Regions from separate parts of the Homo sapiens genome. Here region 1 is linked to region 2. The links come from fine-mapping of genetic effects on gene expression. Tissue or cell type: whole blood. Region 2 holds a variant in brackets; the other region holds the start of a gene. All regions are shown on one strand. Distances are between the middles of the regions.

The links. PIP is the estimated chance that this variant, and not a neighbour inherited with it, causes the effect.
Region 1: GPRIN1 starts here. The variant in region 2 is fine-mapped to the expression of GPRIN1 in whole blood (TOPMed, PIP above 0.99).

The regions. Positions count from the first base shown.
Region 1 is chr5:176,607,175-176,612,174 of GRCh38, forward strand. It overlaps GPRIN1 (G protein regulated inducer of neurite outgrowth 1), which reads right to left and starts at 2,982. Exons shown (of 2, transcript NM_052899.3): 1 at 2,825-2,982. RefSeq lists silencers at 2,563-2,622, 2,683-3,312, 4,214-4,508.
Region 2 is chr5:176,574,917-176,582,851 of GRCh38, forward strand. It overlaps CDHR2 (cadherin related family member 2), which reads left to right. Exons shown (of 32, transcript NM_017675.6): 8 at 168-293; 9 at 364-510; 10 at 590-665; 11 at 808-923; 12 at 1,036-1,269; 13 at 2,483-2,638; 14 at 2,721-2,882; 15 at 3,118-3,179; 16 at 3,449-3,692; 17 at 6,427-6,666. Among named protein-coding and RNA genes, the nearest start is that of CDHR2, 30 kb to the left of the region's middle. RefSeq lists a silencer at 3,512-3,806. The variant A/G (reference allele first, on the strand shown) is at 3,720.

The sequences.
Region 1 (5,000 bases), 31 kb after region 2:
TCCCAGAGGCTCTACTGCTCACAGTTCTGCTGGGCCCTTCCTGGATCTTGGGGAGGCCTGAGGATCCTCGAGCTGCTTCTCTGAGAGGCAGCCCAGGCCTGAGGCCCCACATTCTCTCCCCGCAACTACCCCACTAGAACCCAGCTCCATTACCTGGGCCCAGCACGCTCACTGTCTTTCTTTTTTTGAGACCGAGTCTTGTTTTGTTGCCTAGGCCGGAGTGCAGTGGCATGATCTCGGCTCACTGCAATCTCCACCTTCCAGGTTCAAGTGATTCTCCTGCCTCAGCCTCCCGAGTAGCTGGGATTACAGGCATGTGCCACGACACCTGGCTAATTTTTGTATTTTTTGTAGAGACAGGGTTTCACCATGTTGTTTAGGCTGGTCTTGAACTCCTGGCCTCAAGTGATCCACCCACCTCGGCCTCTCAAAGTGTTGGGATTACAGGCATGAGCCACTGCACCCGGTCTCAGTCTCTTTTTATCATCTGGATCCCACAACAATCTCATGAGGGGGGCATTATCATCCCATTTCACAGATGAGGCCACTGAAGTCAGAGGGAGAAGACTTGACCAAGGGCACACAACTGGGGCACACAACTGGGGCACACAACTTGGTCAAGACTTGACCAAGGGCACACAACTGAGGGAAGGCTGTAGCTCAAAGCCAGTTGTGCCCAAGCACAAAACCTGAGTTCTTTCTAAGATCGTGGACACTGACACTTGGCTCTTTTTTTTTTTTTTTTTTTTTTTTTTTTTTTTTTTTTCTGAAGACAGGGTCTCACTCTGTTACCCAGGCTAGAGTGCAGTGACACAATCATACCTCCCTGTAGCCTCCAACTCCTCAGCTCAAGCAATCTTCCCTCATCAGACTCCTAAGTAGCTATAGGCATGCGCCATCACACCCAGCTAATCTTTAAATTTTTGTAGAGATGGGGGTCTTGGTATGTTGCCCAAGCTTGTCTCAAATTCCTGGCCTCAAGCAATCCTCCTGCCTGGGCTTCTCAAAGTATTGGGATTACAGGTATGAGCCACTGCACCTGGCCTGACACTTGGTTCTCAAAACCCCCTTTCTGGTTTTTGAGGTCAGGCCAAGGTTCCTCCCAAGCAACAGTGCCAAGGAGCATGCAGTAGAAGAAGCAAGAGCTCCCCTCCCCCTGCATACATTCCCCCACCTGTGGGAACGCACACACCCTATGAGCAGATGAGCCTGTACACTTGGGCACAAACAGGTTGAGTGTGGCCTGACTGAGGCAGAAGGCAGAAATGTCTGCTAGGTATGTAGGCGGGCTCACCTGGCATGCAAAGGAGTGAACAGACTGCTTGTGGATGTATGTACCAGCTTGGGCCACTCTGGGGCCAGGACCTGGCTCCTGTGTTCTGCTCAAGAAGAGCTTGTTGTGCGTATGTACACCCTGCATGTGCAGAATGGCCTGTGTGTTTGTGCCTCGTGGGGGCTACTTGGACCCTGTGGGTATCTCACTCCTAGGAGAGCTTATCTGGGTGTTGCACAGGTGCCTGTGTCCTGCTCCCAGGGAGAGCAGCAGCCCCTGTGGCTGCCCATTCAGGCCACAGAGACCTGGCCAGCCATTCCTTTCCCTCTAGGATTTCTTTCCAGCATGGAGCTATCCTTACACCCATAAACAGGGCCAGAACTGCCAAGCACCTGCAAATACCTCTTCTGTGCTGACAAGACCAACAAAGGCTTGAGGGACTTCGTCAGGCATCTGAGTGTGTCTGAGAATCTCAGTCTGCTGCCCCTCGTCCCCTTCTCTCGTAGTGCCCTCAGAGCAGCGAAGTCTCCTGCTCGGGGGTGTGGGGGGAGAAGGAATCTAAAGGTGTTAGCCAGACCTGCTTCCAGAAACGGCCCTCAGACCATGCATACATACATACATAGGAGGGCAAGAATGGACGTTCATGGACGTGCAAACGTGGGCCAGTGTGGGTGGGAGTGGGCAGCACGCTAAGAGACAGAGTGTGTGTGTAAGAGGGAGTGTGTGCACAAGGGTGGCAGTCTACTCCAGGGTATCTGGGTACGCAAGGGACCCCATGAGCAGGGGTGAGCAGGCCAGGGCAGGGTGGCCCCGAGTGTGTTGTGATCAGGGAGTATTGTTGAGTTGATGTCCATGCTGTGATCCGCGATGGCTGGTTTGAGTGCGTAGCTGTGCCTGGGTGTGTACGCAAGGCTCCCACCCAGTACCCTGGGTGACAGGTGGCCGTGTGTATGAGTCTAATGGAATGACCAACAGCCATTGTGTGTGTGCGGTAGACCTGTGGCCTCACTCGAGGAAATGAGGCGCCCGTGCGTGAACGCGGTGTTGTGTGATCGCGCCCCGGAGTGTGTGCCACACTGGTTGTGTGACGGCGAGTGTGCTCAGTAGTGCGAGTGGAGCCAGTGGAGCGTTGAGCTCGCTCCGGGGAAGATGAATCAACGCGGGAGGACGCCCTCCCCCCAGTGGCGGGAAGCACCCCCTCCCGCGCGGCCATGCCGAACAAAGCCAGCGGGCGGCGGCAAGGCCGGGCGCGGGGCCGACCCCACAGCCAGGTCAGCCTGGCCCGCCGGGCCCCTCTGATGTTCGGCCCAGGGCTGCGGGACCCGCCCCCGCCCCGCCCCGCCCCGCCCCGCCCCGGCGAGGAGCCTGGAAACAGACACCCACCGCCCCCAGCCGCGCGCACACACCCGGGCTCATGCCGCGCGAGGTGTCCGAGCCCCGCCGCCGGGGGGCTTCGAGGACCCTGGACAGCGGCTCCGGGGCGGCAGCGAGCGGATGAAGGGGCTGCCGCCGCCCGCCCGGAAAGACAGCGGGTGTGGGCGCGGCGCTTACCAGGCAGTGCCGCTGCTCCGGCTCCTGGGCGAGATGCGCTCCGGCTCCCGCCGCCGCCGCCGCCGCCGCCCGAGCGGCCTCGGCTGCCTCCGGCCGGGCTGGCGGGAGGACCCGCAGACTCGGCGCCGCCGTCCCCAGCGCCGGCTCCGCGCTCCCGCCCCGCGCCCCGCCCCGGGCATGCGCAGTAGCCGCCCGGCCGCCTCGGAACCGCGAGGGGGCGGTGACCGCGGGGAAACCGCGGCCGGAGGGAGCGAGGGAGGGGCGCCCCTCGCTGGCCAACCCTAACTGCGGCCGCTGGGCTCCCGGGTTCCGCGCCGTCCTCGAGCGGGTTCCCACTTCACAGACAGGGAGACTGAGGGCCGGAGAGGCTGCCCCTTTGCTGCGAGCTTGCTGAGGGCGGGGCGCGCCGTCTAGCAGATCTTAGACCAGCCCCTCGAAAGCCCTCGCCTGGCTTGACCAAGGAGGGAACTGGGGCTCAGAGGGGGCAGTCGCCGGCCTGAGGACTCGAGGCGCCTGGATGGGGACCCAGGTCGGCGCGATCTCCCGGCTCCGCCAGCGAGGAAATTTCCCGCCTCCGCCCCCCCCACCCCCGGCCGCACTTCCGGCCTCCTCTTCCCCGCCCCCGGCCCTTTGTCTCGCCGCTGCCCACGCTCCAGCGAGTGGCGGGGACGCCGGAGGTAGTGGTGCGGGAGAGATGCCTTCCAGTCCCTGGCTGCGGCCTCCCCGGGGGCCCGCCCGCCCTCCCCCCTCCCCCTGGATACCCTCGAGCAAATCATTTCACCTCTCTGCACTTCAGTTTCTCGATCTGTAAAACGGGACTAACATTATGCACCTCACGGTGGTCTTGGAAGGGCAAAGTAGGTGTTCAGGGGTTTCCAGTGGTATCTGAATCACCAAGGACACAGAGACTCGCTGCCCACCCCCTCCACATTTCCCTGCAGAGAAGGAGTTCCCTTCCCCTTGACTTCCCAGAGGAGAAAAAATAATTCCGTAATTGCTCTAGATGTGACAAAACCCTCTCGCACCGGTACTATGAAGCCACCACCATCTATTAATCAATGGTAACAACCATTGGCAATGATGCTTATGTAGGGCCAGACACGGCGCTAAGATTCTGTTTACAGGTTTTATCTAATTTCAATTTCCAATCGCTTAGGAGCAAGTTAATATTAATGTATTATATCTCCATTTTTCAGATAAGAAAAGAGAAGCAGATAAGTAACTTGTTTGTGGTCACACATCTAGTTAGTAGTGGAGCTGGGATTACAAACCCATGCAGTCTAACTTTGAAACCTCACTTCTTATTCTTACATTTTACTCCCCTCTCTTACTTGGTGAACCGTAAGTCACCGTGATCCTTTAAAATATATATATATATATATATATATATATATATATATATATATATATATATATATATATATTTAAAATTCTAGGTGATAAATGAAGAAAATCCGTGGGACTGGCGTCTCCAGGCAGCACGCCAGGCAAGGAGAAAACCTCAGCGTGTCGGACCGGTTTCAGAACCACGGACAGCACCACACCAGGGCTGCTTCCTCACATTTCCGGTCCTGAAAATTGCTCATTCACTGCCCACAAGGCCATTTCGCTTCAGAGCTTACAAACCCTTATTCCACATTCATCATTTCATTTTTTTCTCCCTACAGCCCTTCAAAGTAAACATTACTGGCTCCATGACACAGATGAAATTAAGGCTTGGAGAAGTTCACAGATGTGAAAAGTGGCAAGAACCAACCTGTGATCGAAAAAGGTCCCCCTGGGACAGGACAAGGGTGGACAGGAGCAGAGACTAGGCAGGAGTGAGGAGGCTATGGCAGGTGTTCAGGTGAGCGATGATGATGCCTGAACCACGGCGGCATTTGTAGGGATGGAGAGGAAGAGTCAGATTGGATACCTATCTAGGGGTAAAATCAATAGGCCTTGACCATGAGGTGGATGTGGGTGGAGGGGAGAGAGAACTCTGCTGTCTCTCTGAGATTCTGCCTTGGGGAGCCAGGTGGATGAAGGACAGATAATTTATGAGCTCTGGGGGGAAAGAGGGGTTTATAGGATGGCCGTGCTGATACATTTGAGTCCAGAACTGAGTTCTGCCGTGGCCAAAGCTGAAGGCAGACAAGGGAGCCCATCCACCTCCAGCTGGTGCCGGAGGTCATGG
Region 2 (7,935 bases):
CCCCATTTCCTGGAGCTGGAAACTGAGGCTCAGAGAGGTCATATGACCTGGTGCCAGTGGCGTGACTGGTCAGTGGCAGAGCTGGGACCTTCCCTGCGTTGCTCAGAGTGGGGTCCTCGGTGCAGGGCTGTCCCTAGGGAGCCTGACCCAAGTCTGCTCTGCCCCAGGTCATCCCTAGCACTGGGGACAGCGAGCATCTCTTCCGGATCCTGGCCAATGGCTCCATAGTCCTCAATGGCAGCCTCAGCTACAACAACAAGAGCGCTTTCTACCAGCTGGAGCTGAAGGCCTGTGTGAGTGGGGGTGCCGGCAGGCGGGCCTAGGACCCACGGCGCTGGCTCACGGGTGGCCATCTCCCCGCAGGACTTGGGCGGCATGTACCACAACACCTTCACCATCCAGTGCTCCCTGCCTGTCTTCCTGTCCATCTCCGTGGTGGACCAGCCTGACCTTGACCCCCAGTTTGTCAGGGAGTTTTACTCGGCCTCTGTGGCTGAGGATGCAGCCAAGGTGCACGGGGGACCTGTGGGGTGTGGGTGGAGGCGGGAGGCGGGGAAGTTTGAGGAGCACTGACCAGGCCCCATTCCAGGGAACCTCGGTGCTGACGGTGGAGGCTGTGGATGGCGACAAAGGCATCAATGACCCTGTGATCTACAGCATCTCCTGTGAGAACGGGGTGTCCCCAGGCCAGGGCTGGGCCGGGGCCAGGGTGGGGTCTCCGTCAGAGTCCCTGGAGGCAATGGGCCTGGGGCTCCGTCAGAGCCACTGGAGCAGCTGTTCCAGCTGTTCCGCCTTTCTCCTTGCCAGACTCCACGCGGCCCGGCTGGTTTGACATCGGGGCAGATGGGGTGATCAGGGTCAACGGCTCCCTGGACCGTGAGCAGCTGCTGGAGGCGGATGAGGAGGTGCAGCTGCAGGTCACGGTGAGCAAAGGCCCCACCACCCCTGTCAGAACCCTGCTCTCTAACCTCTGGCCTTTGATCTCTCTCTCTGAGCACTGGCTCTCTGCCCTCTGCCCTCTGCTCTGTGCCTCAGGCCACCGAGACACACCTCAACATCTACGGGCAGGAGGCCAAGGTGAGCATCTGGGTGACAGTGAGAGTGATGGACGTCAATGACCACAAACCTGAGTTTTACAACTGCAGCCTCCCAGCCTGCACCTTCACCCCCGAAGAGGCCCAAGTGAACTTCACTGGCTACGTGGACGAGCATGCCTCCCCCCGCATCCCCATCGATGACCTCACCATGGTGGTCTACGACCCGGACAAGGCAGGCGTGGTGGCGTGGGTGTGGGCGGGGGTGGCTGGGGGAGGCCAGTGGGAGCCTGGATCGAGTGACGGTGTCATGTGGTGCTGGGTGGCGGTGCTGGTGGTGCAGGGTGTGATGGCGGAGAATGGGGGTGCTGGGTGCTCTCTGGAAGCCTGTGTTGGTAAGCAGTATCATCCTCTGGGCGATCCGTGTGGGGCTGAATAGAAGGCCATGCTGAGTGGAGGCTGACGTAGAACGTCAGATGATGCTGAGTAGAACATCATTGTCCGTGGTGATGGGTGGCTGGCGAGGTCTCCTGGCATTGGGCGGCCATGATTTGGGTAGTCCTGGGAACTGGGGGAGGCTGAGCAGTGTTGGGACAAGTGGTCTGAGGGTGTGAGGTGGGAGGGTGCTCTTTTTTTTTTTTTTTGAGATGGAATTTCGCTCTGTCACCCAGGCTGGAGTGCAATGGCCCAATCTTGGCCCACTGCAACCTCTGCCTCCCAGGTGGAAGGGATTCTCCTGCCTCAGCCTCCCAAGTAGCTGTGATTACAGGTGTGCACCACCTCGCCCAGCTAATTTTTGTGTTTTTAGTAGAGATGGAGTTTCACCATGTTGGCCAGGTTGGTCTTGAACTCCTGACCTCAAGTGATCCACCTACCTTGGCCTCCCAAAGTGCTGGGATTGCAGGCGTGAGCCACCGCGCCCAGCCATGGGAGGCACTCTTAAGTGGAGGCTGCAGTGAGAGGTGGGTAACACGGTGGCGCTGGAGGATGAGTAACTCTGGAGGGTGTATGGTGTTAGGTGATACTGAGGGGTTGGAAATGTTGCGTGGAGGACAGTGTCGGGTGGGGTTAGGTTGGCCAGAAGGGTGGCACTGGCCAGTGGGGTGACGTAGGGTGTGAGTGGTGTTTGGTGTTGCTGTGGGGGCTGGGGGTGGGGGATGTGAAGGGTGGGTGGGAGGGACAGCTGACAGGAGTGAGGGGTGTGTGTCCAGGCTCCAGCCCAGGTCTGGGACCCACAGTGCCTAGGGAGCTGTCTTCTACAGAGCCTGCATTTGCAGGGACTGGTGACCAGCCCAGCCTCCTGCACCCTCTCTCGCAGTCTTTTGAGAGCCCCCTTCCATGGGACCTCATCGGGCGGGGCATCCAGAGATAGAAGCCTGGGGACTGGGGGAAGATGCAGGTGGGCAGAGCAGGGGGACAGGTCCCTGCTAGACAGCCCACCTTTACAGGGCAGCAATGGCACCTTCCTGTTGTCGCTGGGGGGCCCCGATGCAGAAGCCTTCAGCGTCTCCCCGGAGCGGGCAGTGGGCTCAGCCTCCGTTCAGGTGCTGGTGAGAGTATCCGCGCTGGTGGACTACGAGAGGCAGACGGCGATGGCGGTGCAGGTGAGGGCTGCTCCGGGGTGCCAGGGGCAGAAGCCGAGGGGCACTTGGGCCCCACAGCTGCTGCCTCCTCCCCTGCCCCCAGGTTGTGGCCACAGACTCCGTCAGCCAGAACTTCTCCGTCGCCATGGTGACCATCCACCTTAGAGACATTAATGACCACAGGCCCACGTTTCCCCAGAGCTTGTACGTCCTCACGGTGCCAGAGCACAGCGCCACCGGCTCTGTGGTCACCGACAGCATCCACGTGAGTGATGTGGACACAGTGGGGCTGTGGGGTCCCAGCAAGCGGGCGTGCATGTGTGAGTGTGAGAGTGTGTGTGTGTGTATGTGTGAGATGGGGGTGGCCATGAGTGAATCTGAGTGTGCTGGGGATTCTCCCTTTGTGTGAGGAAGCACGACAGCTCTGTCCCCACGAGCTGCATGGGTGGCGGTGCGTGCATCGCCTCCACACAGCACCCTGCCATGTCTCTGCCTCACAGGCCACGGACCCAGACACGGGCGCGTGGGGCCAAATTACCTACAGCCTGCTCCCAGGAAATGGGTAAGGGCTCAGGGTGGGCCGTAGGCAGGTGGGTGAGCAGGGCCCAGGCCCACCTCTCTGCCTCTCTGCAGAGATAGAATAGCTGGGGAAGACCGAAGGCACTCAGTTACATTTCAATTTCAGATAAACAAGGAATGACTTTTTGAAATAATGAATATGTTGCATATACTGCATGGGATATGCTGAAATATTTGTTGTTGTATATCTGAAATTCACACTGAAATGGGCATCCTGTGTCTCTATTTGCTGAACCTGGCCCCTCTGAGCAGGGCAGACCTCTTCCAAGTGGATCCCGTCTCAGGGACGGTGACGGTGAGGAACGGTGAGCTGCTGGACCGGGAGAGCCAGGCCGTGTACTACCTGACGCTGCAGGCCACAGACGGCGGGAACCTGTCCTCCTCCACCACACTGCAGATCCACCTGCTGGACATCAACGACAATGCACCCGTGGTTAGCGGCTCCTACAACATCTTCGTCCAGGAGGAGGAGGGCAATGTCTCCGTGACCATCCAGGTGTGAGCCTGCCTGGACCTGGTGGGT[A/G]AGGCTGGGGGAGGGGACCAAGCCTGCTCTGTGGGCATGCTGGCCCTGGGTAAAGTCGGGGCTCCGCTGTGTGGCTCTGAGACAGTCACTCAGAGTCTCTGTTTCCTCCCAGGAAATGAAGAAAATTATAGCCTTACTCTCAGGGTCATTGGGGAATAATTTAATGACTTGTGTGAGGAGCTCAGCACTGGGCCTGCCAGAGAAATCCCTCAAAAACATACACTTCTTTTTTATTTACCCACCTGCCCCACTCCAAAAAGGACTTGAGGTGGCTTAGATAAATAGTAAGATAAAAATATGAAAGAAATAAGAAAAAAGAGAAAATAAAGGTGGCATTTGTTAAAGGGCACAAGGTAAAATTAGAACCCAGTGCTACAGAATTGCTTGGAGTGAGCTGCAAATTCTGATCTGAGCTTCATGGTGGCCAAAGCAAAAAAGGAAATGAGATCAGTGGCCAGGTTCACAGAGTTCATGAGATAAAAACCCACTAGTGACTCCAGAGAAACACCGGGGAGTAGCTTCCTCCCTCGTCCTGAGGAGTTCGGAAGCTTCGCCCCTGAGGCATCTTGTGAGAAGTGAGAAACCAGGTCCTCAGAGTGACAATCTGGTGGCCACAGAGCCCTCCCGTCTTTCCAGGACTGTGTAGTTTCCAGAGCATGTTCCTATCCCTGATCTCTTGACCAGCTTTGGAAGCAGGCGGTCTAATAGTTCCCATTTCTCAGGAGACAACAGGCTCAGAAAGGTTAAGTGATTTTCTGTGGTTACACAGCCAGTAAATGATGGCGCTGGGGCTGCAGCCCAGACCTCTCTGGCCCTGAAGCCTTGGCCTTTCCTCCTTCCTGCTTGGCACTTCTCCCCTGGTCTGTGAGCTCCTTGGGGCAGGAGCATTTCTGGTCGGCTGCTGTAACCGTGGTGCCCAGCATGAGCCCCAGGGAGCACTTGATGAATTAACTGGCCTGAGTTCAGGGCACCAAAGGATGAGCAGACAGGATGAGGCTTTTGGAAAAAATAAACATCTCCAGCTGCTTTCAAAGGATGCATGTAATAAACAAGGTCCCAGCAGAATGAAATGGAGGAGCTGAAGGTGGAGACTGGCTGGGAGGAAGGAAAGAATTGGTTGAGTCGGAGTGGTCCCACTCTGGATTCAAGGCCACGTTTGCTGAGCACTTACCCAGTCTTTGGCTGGGCCCTGAGTCCTCAGAGATGAGTCCACCACCATTCCTGCCCCCCAGGCGGCTCCCAGTTAGGAAGAGGGCGTCAGACAGTCACCCAGCGGTGTCACCTGTGCTATGTTGAGGCCCAGAGGAAGCGCCAACCTGGCCTGGAGTCAGGCAGGGAAGGTGTGGGAGGCATCGGGGTGAGGGAACGGAACCTGCAAAGGCCTGGCGGCACAGAGGAACCCGCTGTGTTATCCACACTGGTTCACCCCAAAGACAAACCAAGCATGCCTTCAGGGCCCTGGCAGGACAGGAACACACACACACACTCACGCACGCACTCACACACGCACTCACACACACACTCACACACGCACTCACACACACTCACACACGCACTCACAGACATACAAAGTGAGTGAAGAATCAGCTATTTAAAACATATAGCGCTGACGGCCGGGCATGGTGGCTCCTGCCTGTAATCTCAGCACTTTGGGAGGCCGAGGTGGGTGGATCACTTGAGATCAGGAGTTCGAAACCAGCCTGGCCAACATAGTGAAACCCCATCTCTACTAAAATTACAAAAATTAGCTGGGTGTGGTGGTGCATGCCTGTAATCCCAGCTACTTGGGAGGCTGAGGCAGGAGAATCACTTGAATCCAGGAATTGGAAGCTGCAGTGAGCTGAGATCATGGCACTGCACTCCACTCTGGGCAACAGAGTGAGACTCCACCTCAAAAAAAAAAAAAAAGAAAGAAAGAAAGAAAAAAAAGAAAACAAAACAAAACAAAAGAAGGGCCAGACGTGGTGGCTCACGCCTGTATGTAATCCCAGCACTTTGGGAAGCTGAGGCAGGTGGATCACCTGAGGTTAGGAGTTCAAGACCAGCCTGGCCAACATGGTGAAACCCCATCTCTACTAAAAAATACAAAAAATTAGCCTGGTGTGGTGGTGGGTGCCTGTAATCCCAGCTACTTAGGAGGCTGAGGCAGGAGAATCACTTGAACCCAGGAGAAGGAGTTTGCAGTGAGCAAGAGAGATCGCACCATTGCACTCCAGCCTGGGCAACAAGAGCGAAACTGTATGAAAGAAAAAAGAAAAAAGAAAAAATATGTATATAGCACTGAAGTAGTCATTATGGGAAAATGAGAATCTTGCTGGACTTCACACTTATGAGTTTAAAACTTTCTTTGTCTACAATTTCCTGCCCCCATATCCCCCTTCCTGCTAGAATATCAGTAGCAAAAGGGCCTGTCTTGATGATGGCTCTATTCTTTCTTTGCACCTGGAACGGGGCTGGGCACGTAGGTCCACAGTGGCCGTTTGTGAGATGAAAGAATGGCCTCAGTGCTGAAGATCTCAGAAGCTCTTGCAAACTGCTGACCTGAGCCTCTTAGATGGGAAACTGGGGCTGGGAGATGGGCCCAGGGGCTCCAGGCCTGATGACTGCCTGCGTGGGCCAGCGCTGGAGAGGAGGGTCCGGCTGCATCGGAGGGGCTGGGGGCTGGGAATGCCGATGGCCGATGACCAACCCCTGCTTACGTGCACAGGCCCACGACAATGATGAGCCGGGCACCAACAACAGCCGTCTGCTCTTCAACCTGCTGCCTGGCCCCTACAGCCACAACTTCTCCTTGGACCCTGACACAGGGCTCCTCAGAAACCTGGGGCCCCTGGACAGAGAGGCCATCGACCCCGCCCTGGAGGGCCGCATTGTGCTGACAGTGCTTGTGTCTGACTGCGGCGAGCCTGTCCTCGGCACCAAAGTCAATGTCACCATCACTGTGGAGGTAAGGCCTCGCTTAGCCAGGATGGGCCTGGGGGCCTCCCAAGCCGATAGCCAGCCCCTCCAGCTTGAGTCACACTTCTGCCCTCTGCAGCCAGCCTGCCTGGGTTACAATCCCGCTCACTCGTATGGCCCCAGGCAATTACTCAACCTCCCTAGGCACTCAGGCTCCTCATCTATAAAACGGGGGTGAAAAAGGTTAAAGATTAAGTGAGTTAATGAATGGAAAGTGCTTGGTAGAGTGCCTGACCTATAGACAGTATCAGTGAATATCAGCTCTAATTGTCACTCATAAAGTCCCACCTGAAACCCTCCTGTCTCCCTGCCACCATTGAAAAGCAAAGGGAAGGGGTGAAAATCAGCATTGCTGGTGTCTATTGCACATCAGGGCATCCGCCAAGGTTGGGATGGTTATTACCATTTTGTTTTTATTTATTTATCTATTGATTTATTTATTTTTGAGACAGGGTCTCCCTTTGTCACCCAGGCTGCAGTGCAATAGTGCCATCATGGCTCACTGCAGACTCAACCTCCCAGGCTCAAGCGATCCTCCTGCCTCAGCCTCCTGAGTAGTTGGGACTATAGGCATATGCCACCATGCCTGGTTAATTTTTTTATTTTTGTAGAGATGGGGTTTTTCCATGTTGCCCAGGCTGGTCTTGAACTCCCGAGCTCAAGCGATCCACCCGCCTTGGCCTCCTAAGTAGCTAAGACTAAAGATGCGTGCCACCATGCCTGGCTAATTTGGCTAATTTTTAAAATTTATTTTTCATAGAATCAGAGTCTCACTTATTGTCCAGGCCAATTTTGAACTGTTGGCCTCAAGCGACCCTCTCAACTCAGCCTCACAAAATGCTGGGATTACAGGCATAAGTCACTGAGCCCGGTTTATTACCGTTTTATTGATTGAGCAACTGAGGCGGGCCTAGTTGCTGTGGCTCATGCCAAAAACCTCAGTACTTTGGGAGGCCAAGGTGAGAGGATTGCTTGAGCCCAGGAGTTTGAGACTGGGCTGGGCAACATAGCGAGACCCCATCTCTACTAAAATAAAAAATTAGCCAGGCATGGTGGCATGTACCTGAAGTCCCAGCTACTTGGAAGGCTGAGGCAGGTGGATCATTTCAGCCCAGGAGGTTGAGGCTGCGGTGAGCTATGATCATGCCACTGCAATCCAGCCTGTGAGACAGAGCAAGACCCTGTCTCAAAAAAAGAAACTGAGGCACAGAGAGGTTCAGTACCTTGCCTGGGGGTCACAAAATTGGGTTTTGACTTC